Regions from separate parts of the Homo sapiens genome. Here all the other regions are linked to region 1. Evidence: fine-mapped expression QTL. A gene starts in region 1. Each other region holds a variant in brackets. All regions are shown on one strand. Distances are from middle to middle. Region 1 holds the start of RPF2 (ribosome production factor 2 homolog). Region 2 overlaps RPF2 (ribosome production factor 2 homolog). Region 3 has its middle 51 kb from the start of RPF2.

Region 1 (4,244 bases):
GCCGGCCAAAATCTCACTTTTTTGGTAGATATTAGTAAAAGATATTTCCTTATTATTGTTAAATAAGTGTTTTGATAGCTTTTAAAAAAAAGCTTTCATTTTTGTATTCCCACCATTCTTTTATTACTGCTCTTTCCAATCTTTTTTTTAAGTAAAAAATAAAAGGCTCAAGTAAATACTGTTGCTGTTTTTTTTCTCTTACTCTTTCTTACTCTTCTTTTTTCTTCAAACTTTAAGTAGTCAAACTGTATCCTGTACCCTAATACAAAGAATTGAGCATCAACTGCTGATCAACCTGTGGACATTTACTAAACATAAGACTAACGACTGCTTATTTTTCTTTTAGGTTTAAGACCACAATGCCTGCCAGGAAGTATACACTGTTGCACTCCAACATCATTGCTGAGAATGCCAGTATTATTGCCAACAATGGGGAATAATAAGGCTGATGTTTACATGGAGTCACTCTATTAAGGCTTAATCTTCACCACAATCCTGAGAGTTACAATTCTTATTTATTTATTTATTTATTTTTTTGAGACAGAGTCTCGCTCTGTCGCCCAGGCTGGAGTGCAGTGGTGCGATCTCGGCTCACTGCAAGCTCCGTCTCCCAGGTTCACGCCATTCTCCTGCCTCAGCCTCCCGAGTAGCTGGGACTACAGGCGCCCGCCACGACGCCCGGCTAATTTTTTGTATTTTTAGTACAGACGAGGTTTCACCGTGTTAGCCAGGATGGTCTCGATCTCCTGACCTCGTGACCCACCCCCCCGCCTCAGCCTCCCAAAGTGCTGGGATTACAGGCGTGAGCCTCCACGCGCGAGTTACAATTCTTATCTTCACTTTACAGATGAGGCAATTGAACAGACAGGTAATGTGCCCAAGATCACACAGCAAGTAAACAGGCCAATTTTTAAAATGAGCTAGGGCTGGGAGGTGGCCCACAGCCTGTAATAAAAACACTCTAGGAGGCCAAGGTGGATGGATCACTGAGCCCAGAAGTTCGAGACCAGCCTGGGCAACAATGCAAAACCCTGTCTCTACAAAAAATACAAAAATTAGCTGTGGTGGTGTGCGCCTATAGTCCCAGCTACTCAGCAGGCTGAGGTAGGAGGACTGCTTGATCCCAGGGAGGTCGAGGCTGCAGTGAGCTGTGATGGGGCTACTGCACTCCAGCCTGGGTGACAGAGTGATACCCTGTCTCAAAAAAAAACAAATTTTTTAAAGCTAGATTTAAAAATTCGTCTAGACCAATTACCCTGTAAAATATGAAGGGAAAATAAATTCATTATTCTGACTTTATGATGTGACAGTAGGAGTGGCATGTTTTTACACACTTCTGTTCAAAAGAGGGGCTTCACCTCTGCTTCCTCTACAATGAGCACCTTGCTTTTCAGACAGTTCTCTGCCATCTACTGAAAGAATTCTTCCTCCCAAATAATTATGACCCTCCCTCGTCCAGTCCCATGGACACTTTGGGAAGAAAAAGAGACCATACATACACTTAAGTTTCCCATGTAGATTTTTAAAATACTCCTCCAGATATAATGTCACATATAAAGCTTCTGATCATTTACTGGTTGATAAAGATACAAATTATTCTATCTTTTGTATCTCATTAAACAGCAACAAATGCAAATAGCAATTAACATGTTTTATTAGCTGCCTGCTCCCAATTAACGTGTGAACTAGTCCCAATACCTAGTAAACTACTCTTTGTAGTCCAAACAGCTAGAGGCATAGCAGGTGTGCAAAATCTCTGAATGACTAAAACTGTCGTTTTGGATACATGTTAACTTAGGTAAATAGCAAGAAAATCACAGCAAGTAACAGCAGGGCTGTTTAGCCCAAATATTCTTGAACAAATTTAAAACAGGTATCATTCAAGGATAACTCAGAGGAGTGTACAAAGTTGGAAGGAAAAGAAAAAACTAATGAACATTTCTACGTGCTGCAGCAAAGGCTCTACATACATTCTCGAAACTAACCCTCACAGCTCTATGAAGTATGACTATGGTGAGCGCTATTTTACAGAATAAGCTAAGATTTAGAGATATTTAATGACCCAAAGTCACAAAGCTTTAAGTGGACGCGCCAGACTGTCACTCAGATCTGTCGGATTCCGAGGGCTGTGCTCCTAACCCCACTATACCATCTGTCTCATACTTCGGAAGTCAGACGTTTTTCAACTGGCTAGGATAAAAGCGGCCAACGCTTCAATCCCACATCCCTCCCATCCCACGGCTCCCACTTGAGAGCTTCCCCACTGTCTCCTGGCAAGCAGCTCGCGCTGAGGAGGACCCGGGCTGGTGATCGATCGGCCCCCACCCAGGTAATTAGAGGGGTAACCAGGAAGAGTGAGAGGCCGAGACAGTACCACCCTCATCACGGGACCCTTTCACCCCAACGCTCCCCGGGGCTGAGACCCAGCGCACTTACACTACTCGATCCAGAGTGTCCATCGCTACCGCTACCTGCAACTCTTAACCAGGGGGCATGCACGTGCCCTCGGCGATTACGTGCGCCGGAACAGGCGGAACCGGAAGCTGCGCGTAACGCCACTTCCGGGGACGGCCTCGTAGAGGGCGTCTAGAGGCGCTGGCGGCCATCTTGATTGGAATCGCGCCCTGTTGTCTTGGTTACGGATTTTTGCCCCGGCTCTTTCCTGGAGTTACAGGTGCGAGGTAATACTTTTAAGTAACACTGGCCGGGCGTGGTGGCTCACGCCTGTAATCCCAGGATTTTGGGAGGCCCAGGCGGGCGGATTACCTGATAACAGGAGTTCGAGACCAGCCTGGCCAACATGGCGAAACCCCGTCTCTACTAAAAATACAAAAATTAGCCGGGCGTGGTGGCGGGCGCCTCTAACCCCAGCTACTCGGGAGGCTGAGGCAGGGAGAACTGCTTGAACCCGGGAGGCGGAGGTTGCAGTGAGCGGAGATCGCGCCACTGCACTCCAGCCTGGGTGACAGAGCGAGACTTCGTCTCAAAAATAAAATAAAAATAAAATAAAATAACATAGACCCTCGCAGTTTGATGTACGCGCTAGTGTGCATACCTGGAGTCAGGTATTCAGAAACCAGATTTTATTCTTCAAGGAATCCCAGGATGCTAGAAAGGTTGATTGATTGCACGGTAGGTACTCACATAAGCACTAAAAACATTGATGTGAAAGGGGCACTATTGACAACTATGCGATCTGTGTGACAGAATTTATGACTACCACAGTTGCCTAGTACATAAAAGATGCGCAGAAAATGTACTGCTGTTCGTGATTTTTCCCCAGTTTTTAAGTTACCATATACTTCACATACCATAAAATGTACCCCTTTACAGTGTACAATTCAGTGATTTTTGGTGTATTCACAAAGATGTGCAAATATCACCACTAATTCCAGAATATTTAATCACCTCAAAAAGAACCCCCCTGACACACACACCCAGTAGCAGTCCATGCCCCACTTCCCCCTCCTGCCAGCCCTTGGCAACCAATAATCTACTTTATGTTCAATGGATTTGCCTATTCTGAACATATATAAATGGTTTCGTGCAACGTATGGCCTTTTGTGTTTGACTTCTTTCACTATCTTTTTGAGGTTCATACATGTAGCGTGGATCAGTACTTCCATTTTGTTAGGACTGAATAATATTCCTTTGTATGGATATACCACATTTTGTTTATCCATTTATCAACCTAGGTACTTTTTTTATTTTAGACATAGTCTTGCTCTGTCGCCAGGGCTGAAGTGCAGTGGTGCGATCTTGGCTTACTGCGCCGTCCACCTCCCGGGTTCAAGCAGTTCTGCCTCAGCCTCCCAAGTAGCTGGGATTACATGCACGCACCACCACACCTTGCTAACTTTTGTATTTTTTAGTAGAGACAGGGTTTCACCATGTTGGCCAGGCTGGTCTTGAACTTCTGAGCTCAGGTAATCCACCCGCCTTGGCCTCTCAAAGTGCTAGGAATACAGGCGTGAGCTACTGTACCCGGCAGCTTATGTACATTTGAATGGTTCCTATTTTTTGGCTATTATGGATTATGCTGCTTTGTGTTTTTTTGTTTTGTTTTGCTTTGCTTTGTTTTGTTTCTGAGACAGAGTCTCACTCTGTCACACAGGCTGGAGTGCAGTGATGCAATCTCAGGTTACTGCAACCTCCATCTCCTGGGTTCAAGTGATTCTAGTGCTTCAGCCTCTCGAGTAGCTGGGACCACAAGCGCGTGCCACCACACCCAGCTGCTTTGAATA
Region 2 (4,244 bases), 43 kb before region 1:
AGCTATCCGGAGAGGACTAGGGAAAGCTAAGGAATGGATTCAAAAGAGAAGGGAAAGGGTAGAAGGTAAAGCTGAGGCTCGAACTTTTGCTTAGTGCCAGCATTGTTGATCTGTAGCTGAGCAAGCTTACATAAAGGCATGTATACACAGGCACGGAGCTCTCTAACATGGAATTGAAGTGAAACCCTGTCTCTACAAAAAATCAGCCAGGCGTGGTGGTGGGTGCCTGTAATCCCAGCTACTCGGGAGGCTGAGGCAGAAGAATGCTTGAACCTGGGAGGTGGAGGTTGCAGTGAACTGAAATCGCGCCACTGCACTCCAGCCTGAGCGACAGAGCGAGACTCTGTCTCAAAAAACAACAAAAAAGAAAGCACTGGTACTTCATGTAACAAATTATGATTTGCGTATGTCTGTACCTTTACAACATTACTGGCACTTGTATAAAGGAGATTCCTTGTCAAGGACTGAATCAAGGAACTTAACACCCTATTCCAGAAAAACAAGTATGCAATACTAGTAGAAGGAAGAAGAAAGCTTCTGTTTTCCTAGGCACAAGGCCTGTCTTCAAGAAACTTTCAAAACAAGTAGTTAGGCTTTGGCTGGCTTCTACACCATCTGCAAACGCCCAGGGCCTTCATGCAACCTTTAGCTACCTAGGGCTACCCAGTACCCTAAAGTGCCCTGCACCTTAAAACTCACCTGTTTTCTCCTTTTTCATTTCTGCCCCTATCAAAACTTCTTTTCTGCCAGGTGCAGTGGACCAACATCTGTAGTTCCGGCTGCTCAGGAAGGTGAAGTGGGAGGATCACTTGAGCCCAGGAATTTGAGTCCAGCCTGGGCAACACAGCAAGACCTCATTGCTTTAAAAAAAAAAAGTAGGGCTCAGTGGCTCATGCCTGTAATCCCAGCTACGTAAGAGGCTCAGGCAGGAGGATTACTTGAGCCCAGGAGTTCAGGGCTGCAGTGAGCTGTGATTGTGCCACTGCACTCCACCCTAGGTGACAGAACAAGACCCCATCTCTTAAAAACAAACCAACCAAAAAACACAGGTTTCGTCTCAGAGAAGCGGGGTGGGCTCTACTTAGTAGTAGAGTCTCTTAAAACAATCAACAGTAGTGTAATTTATCAATAATCAGATAGCAGACATCCCTCTCAGAGATCTATATATTTTCAGCCACAAAGCTTAAAATCTCAAATGTCAACGAGTAGGATTTCAGGCAAAATAAAAGTAGAAAATAAAAATCAGAATGTAGATCCATGTTGGGAGAGGAGGTTAACTTTCCAGGTAATTCATACTGAGATTGTTTACACAGCTCCTGCGGGTCCGGCTTTCTGTGGCTTTCTTTAGCTAAGGCCAGAAATTCAAAAAAATCCCAATGGTTATGGAGATCCCTCCTCACCCATCCATCCACCCAATGAGAAAGAAGAATTTGTGGAGGGCAGGGGATATCACAAGAGAAAATGGCACACCAGGGTGTAATGTCTCAAATAAAAGGCTTACTTTACACTTAATACTAGTATATTACTGTTCATAATAATATATCGTAAAATTATCATGTTATAAAAATATATAATAAGATCTTATAAGAAACTCTGAATGGATTGACGCTTGATAATTCTCTTAAGTAGAACACAATGAAA[C/T]AGTAGTGGCTGGCTAAGTTCCATCAATTTTTTTTAATTCTTTTTGACTTTTTCTCGTGGTCTTCTGTTATCCTTTCTGCAGGTCGCTTCTTCAACCCCTTCATTTTCCTGGTTTGTAGTTTGCTTAGGTCTTGCTTCTGCATATGAATCCTTCCATAAGTTGTACCAAAAGTATCATGGGAAATATTTTTCTTCTTCTTTGGCTACGATAAAAGAATATGTATATATTTAATGGCCTTCTACTATAATGAGCCAGTAAAAATCTAGTCTGTAACAACTATCTTAGTAGCAATTTCCATTAGTGCCTGCCCCTTCAGTGACACAGTATATAGCCCTATACACTTTTCTTCTCAAACTTAAGTGTGCATACAAATCACTTGGGATCTTGCTAAAATACAGATCCTAATTCAGTATGTCTAGGGTAGGGCCTGATATTCTGCACAATTCCCAGGTAAACTGTCAGGCCACACTTTGAAAAACAAAACTATAAACTACACTAACCACTGTCACACATCAAGAAAATAGCCTGTGTTTAGCTTAAGAAGTTGTGACTATTGTTTCAATTTCTATTGGCATTTTAGAGATTACATTTCTTCTTGTCTTTTAAAACTACTTAAAAAGTCAAAACACATTTTATGCACATATGGTTTATATACCCTGTACTCTAAATCCTTAGCCTTTACAGTGTACCAAACAACTCTCTTTCTTTTGCTGAAAACAACAGTCTTGACTATCAGAAGGCACTTAGCCAAACCTCATGTCTGGGTTTTGCAACTCTTTTTTTATTATCCCTTATTGTTGGCTTATTTGGTTCTCTCTCCTTTTCCTGGCTCTGTGAGTCCTAGTTTAATCTATTGTATTGATCTCTTTATATATGTCCTTGTCTTTTTTTTTTTTTTTTGGCTCACTCTGTCACCCACGCTGGAGTGCAATGGCGTGATCTCTGCTCACTGCAAGCTCCACCTCCCCGGTTCACGCCATTCTCCTGCCTCAGCCTCCCAAGTAGCTGGGACTACAGGCGCCCGCTACCACGCCCAGCTAATTTTTTGTATTTTTCATAGAGACGGGGTTTCACTGTATTAGCCAGGATGGTCTCGATCTCCTGACCTTGTGATCCACCCACTTCGGCCTCCCAAAGTGCTGGGATTACAGGCGTGAGCCACCGCGCCTGGCCTGTCCTTGTCTTTTAATATAATATGCCACAAATTCTTTTTGGAAAGAAAAAGGATTAAAGTAGAAAATACAAATAAATGTGGTACCAAGCTCTAAGTTATATACCTTGAGAGCTTTTGGCATTTTCATAGATAATTTATAAAGGTCATCCGATGCCAGGTGTGTCCTCCTCAGAACCAGATCCAATGAGGGTCCCATCTCTTCCAATTCAATCCGTGGTGTTCTGCAACCAGATTTCTTCAACAGCAACCTTTAGGAAATAGGTAAAAAGAAATGTTGCTTTGACTTTCATAAAAGTCCTCTCCACCAAATATTTTTTGTTCAGGGGATTTACAATTCCATTAAATGATATAAAATGTTTAGAAAGACTTACTTAAATACTTAATACTATTCAAGCCAAGTATATCCTTTGGTTCACATCTTCTTTTATAAATTTTTTTTTTTTTGAGACGGAGTCTCGCTCTGTCCCCAGGCTGGAGTGCAGTGGCGCGATCTTGGCTCACTGTAAGCTCCACCTCCCAGGTTCACGCCATTCTCCTGCCTCAGCCTCCCGAGTAGCTGGGACTACAGGCACCCGCCACCACACCTGGCTAATTTTTTTGTATTTTTAGTAGAGATGGGGTTTCACCGTGTTAGCCAGGATGGTCTCGCTCTCCTGACCTCATGATCCTCCTGCCTCGGCCTCCCAAAGTACTGGGATTACAGGCATGAGCCACCATGCCCGGCTTTTCTTTATAAGTCTTTTATCCCTTTTTGAGCTAAAGGGTCACACAAATATCAAATTAAAAATTTTTTTTTTCTCTTTGAGGTCAAGGGCAGTTTGCTTATTTTTAAAAATCAGAAATAAAATTATACAATATTATTGAGAAACAGCAAGTGAGATACAAAATTATTCTCAGAAATGAAATAAAATCCTTTGATTTGACTTCTTCATCTTACTCATAGATTTATGTATGTATAAAAGTAATTATAATTGGCTTTTTCTTTGAAACAGTATGTTTATACGATTAACAAGTTCTTATCTAAGACTGTAGGAGTTAAACCAACCCATTCAGAATCAACTTTTCCTCATAGCACAGACATTTACTAACTTCCTTACATTGAAGTGAACTTTAAAATCTTAAAATAACAAAACCACAACTTTCTGAATACCCTATGTCTAAACAGCTCTGGATCTGGAAACACTGGTGGAGGAGAACTGGGGAATACAGGCAGGATAAAGTGATGGTGGAGCAGCCAGGCGTGGTGGCTCACGCCTGTAGTCCCAGCACTTTGGGAGGCTAAGGCAGGCAGATCACCTGAGGTCAGGAGCTCCAGACCAGCTGGCCAACATGGTGAAACCTCATCTCTACTAAAGACACAAAAAATTAGCCAGGCGTGGTGGCACATGCCTGTAGTCCCAGCTACTCGGGAGGCTGAGGCAGGAGAAT
Region 3 (4,244 bases), 50 kb before region 1:
TTTTAAATTGTTTGTAGAGACAGGATCTTGATATGTTGCCCAGGCTAGTCTTGAACTTCTGGCCACAAGCAATACTCCTGAAATTATACGTGTGAGCCACCGTGCCTGGTCCTATTTTTATTTTTTTAGAGACAAGGTCTTGCTATGTTACTCAGGCTGGAGTACAGTGGCTATTCACAGGCATGATTATAGCATACTAAGGCCACCTGGGCTTAAGGAACTCTCCTGCTTCAGTCTCCTGAGTAGCTGGCGAAATCCCCTTTGCAAAAATTATAACTGAGGAAATTATGACAGTGAAAGAAATCAGACCTAAACAACTCCATCTTGCTTCTAACCTTTAAGCTGTCCTTGTTCATCCCTGGGCATAGGCTGAACCAACTTTGGGAAGGAATTCAGTTCATGGTTTGACTCTAGAAACAAAATTGGTAATAGCTCTTTCCTGAAACGACCCCCTTCTTGCCTGGGGACCAGTCTGCCTTCGCAGGACTAACAAATTAGCTACAAGGCTAGAAATTACAGTTTAGGGGTCATGCAGCCTCTGGCTCCAAGAGTCTGAACCTTCCCAAATTGCTCCTGGGGATAATATCACCATTGTGAAACCTACGATCAGAGCTATTGTGCAGACCCTGCACTCGATGGATCAGCTGACACCACCCAGACGGCAATCTGGCTCAACCAGTTCTGCCATCCCACCCAGGAACAGAAGAGAGCAAGAAAAATTCACTTCCGCCCCCTGTGAGTCCATCTCCAACCTGACCAATCAGCACTCCCCACTTCCCAAGCCCCTACCCGCAAAATTATCTTTGAAAACTCTGATCCCCAAATGCTCAGGGAGACTGATTTGGGTAATAATAAAACTCTGGTTTCCCACATAGCCGGCTCTGCGTGAATTACTCTTTGTCCATTGCAATTCCCCTGTCTTGGTAAATCGACTCTGTCTAGGCAGCCGGTAAAGTGAACCCTTTGGGCACTTAACTGGGACTACATGCTCACCACCACACCCAGCTTAAAACTATGCATTTTTTTCAGTGGTAAGAAATACAGCAAAATGTTAATTACCTGGTATTACCTGAGATTACAGATGACTTTTATTTTCATCTTTGCAACTTTCCCTTTGATTATCAGAAAAAAAGTTCGTTTTTTTTTTTTAAATCAGAAAAATATTCCTTGTATTTGAAAGAAAATGCTTGGCCTGGTGTGGTGGCTCACCCCTGTAATCCCAGCACTTTGTGAGACCGAGTCGGGCAGATCAACTGAGGTCAGGAGTTCCAGACCAGCCTGGCCAACATAGCAAAAACCCATCTCTACTAAAAATACAAAAATTAGCCAGGCATGGTGGTGGGCGCCTGTAATCCCAGCCACTCAGAAGGCTGAGGCAGGAGAATCACTTGAACCTGGGAGGCGGAGGTTGCAGTGAGCCAAGATCCGTGCCACTGCACTCCAGCCTGGGGTGACAGAGCAAGACTTGTCTCAAAAAAAAAAAAAAGAAAAAAGAAAAAGAAAAACAAAAAGGAAAGAAAGAAAATGCTTTCTAAATTGTAAACATATACAGTGTCAGGTGTTATTCCCAATGCCTGAAACATAATAATGCTTGATAAATGTGGAGTGATTGGTTATTGTCCTGTGAAAGTTGAACCATAAGAATTGGGTCATTCTTGTCAGATCCAACTAAAACAGAGTCAAGAAGCTAGGAGGAAAAACATTCAGGGTACCAAAGCATTGCTCCAAGAATAGACTTTCTTTGCAAGCCTGGCTGCTGAAGCTGCTTGTTGTAAGCTGAAACCAGTTTTATCTATAGCTTCTGAGATAACTTGCTACAATTCTAGGACTAATTTTGCCCTCTGCTGTTGCTCACCGATCAGAGCTCCCAGCTCCCCAAACCCACAGTGCCAACGAACTTTCTCAAAGAGCAATACATAACATTTCTCCTTTTTAATAAAACCTCTGGCCTTTTCTTTGTTCTTCAGACATTCCGAAGACCACCCAGTCTGCATGTATGTCTGAACTTATAAATTCTGAAACCACCCTCACAGGGTCGACAAGAATTGCATGTTAGGTTCTGGCCAGAAATGTAGTTATAATTTATCATTAATCAAGCTGCCCTTTGGCCCACTTCCTTGTTGCTAAATCACATAGCACTAGATACTGACCATCTGCATCCCCACTGTATGATGGACAGGATTTCTGACATCAGGGTCATAAGACTAAGAATTGACTTGCATCCCCATTGTTCCTACAGGGTCTCTGAACATTAGATCATAACACTTTTGTTTAAGGATCACTTAAAATGTTTTTCAGGGCCAGGTATGGTGGCGAGAGCCTGAAATCCCAGCACT[T/C]TGGGAGGCCGAGATGGGAGGACTGCTTGAGGCAGAGTTCAACCAGCTTGGGGAACATAGCAAGACCCCGTATCTTCCTACAAAAATATTAAAAAATTAGCTGGCCCTGGTAGTGCGCGCCTGTAGTTCTACCTATTTGGGAGGCTGAGTTTGGAGGACTGCTGGAGCCCAAAGAGTTCGAGGCTGCAGTGAGCTATAATCACACTGGGTGACAGAGCAAGTCCCTATCTCAAAAAAACAAAAACAAACAGATGTTTTTCAGACCCCGAATTCCAACAAAACAGCTGATGCCAACCAGCTTGAAGATCCCACCAGAGGAAGGGGATCAGTATGAGAATAGTTTCTTCATCTCCCTGTCCTATGACTTCACTTTGCACTCTTTCATCAATTAACAATCTCTAAAACCCTAAAAAATCCTAACCTCAAATTCCTTAGAATTGTATCTGAGGTTTCTTCCCATCTCCTCATTCAAATTTTTCTTTTCTTTTCTTTTTCTCTTGAGACAGGGTCTCACTCTGTCGCCCAGGCTGGAGTGCAGTGGCGTGATCTCAGCTCACTGCAACTTTCACCTCCTGAGTTCGAGCGGTTCTCCTGCCTCAGCCTCCTGAGTAGCTGCAATAAATAGCGTGTACTACTGTGCCCGGTTTATTTTTGTATTTTTAGTAGAGATGGGATTTTGCCATGTTGGTCAGGCTGTTCTCGAACTCCTGAGCTTAAGCGATCTGTGCGCCTTGGCCTCCCAAAGTGCTGGGATTATAGGTGTGAGCGACCATGCCCGACCTCCTGGTTCAAATTTTTATGATTCTTCTTCTTTCTCTGCTGCAACCTGGTGTCTCAGTGTATTGACTTGCTGTGTGCCTCAGGCAACAAATTTATTATGGTTACAATTCTTTCTCCCAAGTAAAACAAATTTAGAGATTCGTCTCTACAATTTTGACTTCAACGCTCTACCGGGAAAGTATCTGTTTCAAAAAAGGAAATGGGTTAACACTCTTAACTCTCAGGGAACCCAGGCTGGCTCCTAGTGATGACTATTTCCAATTCTAAGTAAGAGCTCATGAGGCACCTACATGATTCTTCTTATAATTTTGCCAGAGTCAAAACTAGAAGGTATCTGTCACCAGTTCTCTGCCTCATTCTACGTCCCCATAGTTCCTTCAAGATTAACTGAATGTGCATGTTTGGAATGGAGACTCAGTTATTTCAAGCGGCCAGGTGCTTTGCATGCCATATTTCACCCACCTTGAGGTTAGGATAGAATTACTTTCGGGAGCCCTATTTCTCAATCATGATGGCTACTCCTCTCATTTTCTAAGAATGGAGATAACATGGGAATTTCATCAGCCAGTATTATACCAGTTGCCTTATCAAGTCCCCTTTTAAAATTCTTTGTCATACTGCTACTACTACTACCACAAAACAAAGCCACATTGATTGCCCTTTGCATTTCTTGAGTCTGCAAACATTTTCACTTTTCTTAGAGAACCATATTACTAATTGGTGTTGCCCATGGTTTTATGCACTGTATCTTTTAATTGTCCTTTTAAATCTCAGCTGAGCTCTCAGAGTAGCAGGCGAGGGTTGTGTCGGTTTCATTTAATGCCACACTCCTTCCCACAACACTGCCCTGTCTGCCACTCCCACATACTCTCCTGCCCGTATGGTGATGCTGCTTTTGAGCTCTCATGCCACTTGAGCTTTGATTGATTTTTCAAGATTCTGTCTAACCTTTCCCCAAGGTCACCCTTAATGGAGGAAGGTGCTGGGGGTAAAATTCAAAACATATTTGTGGCATTCACTAGCTTTGACTGGGGAGCCAGATGGATGAAATGGGGCCTCATGGGGACAGTAAAGAATTCTCACGCTCTCCCAGTGCCATAAACCGAGCGGCCTCCGAAAGGCTGAGCC

Evidence for each region. PIP is the estimated chance that this variant, and not a neighbour inherited with it, causes the effect.
Region 2: its variant is the best candidate, but not a certain one, in a credible set for the expression of RPF2 in skeletal muscle (GTEx, PIP 0.57).
Region 3: its variant is the best candidate, but not a certain one, in a credible set for the expression of RPF2 in whole blood (INTERVAL, PIP 0.63).

The regions. Positions count from the first base shown.
Region 1 is chr6:110,980,322-110,984,565 of GRCh38, reverse strand. It overlaps RPF2 (ribosome production factor 2 homolog), which reads right to left and starts at 2,528. Exons shown (of 10, transcript NM_032194.3): 1 at 2,437-2,528. The coding sequence starts at 2,459.
Region 2 is chr6:111,023,003-111,027,246 of GRCh38, reverse strand. RPF2 (ribosome production factor 2 homolog) reads right to left here. Exons shown (of 10, transcript NM_032194.3): 9 at 2,920-3,064; 10 at 1-1,844. The coding sequence ends at 1,665. Among named protein-coding and RNA genes, the nearest start is that of RPF2, 43 kb to the right of the region's middle. The variant C/T (reference allele first, on the strand shown) is at 1,642.
Region 3 is chr6:111,030,532-111,034,775 of GRCh38, reverse strand. No RefSeq gene overlaps it. Among named protein-coding and RNA genes, the nearest start is that of RPF2, 51 kb to the right of the region's middle. The variant T/C (reference allele first, on the strand shown) is at 2,337.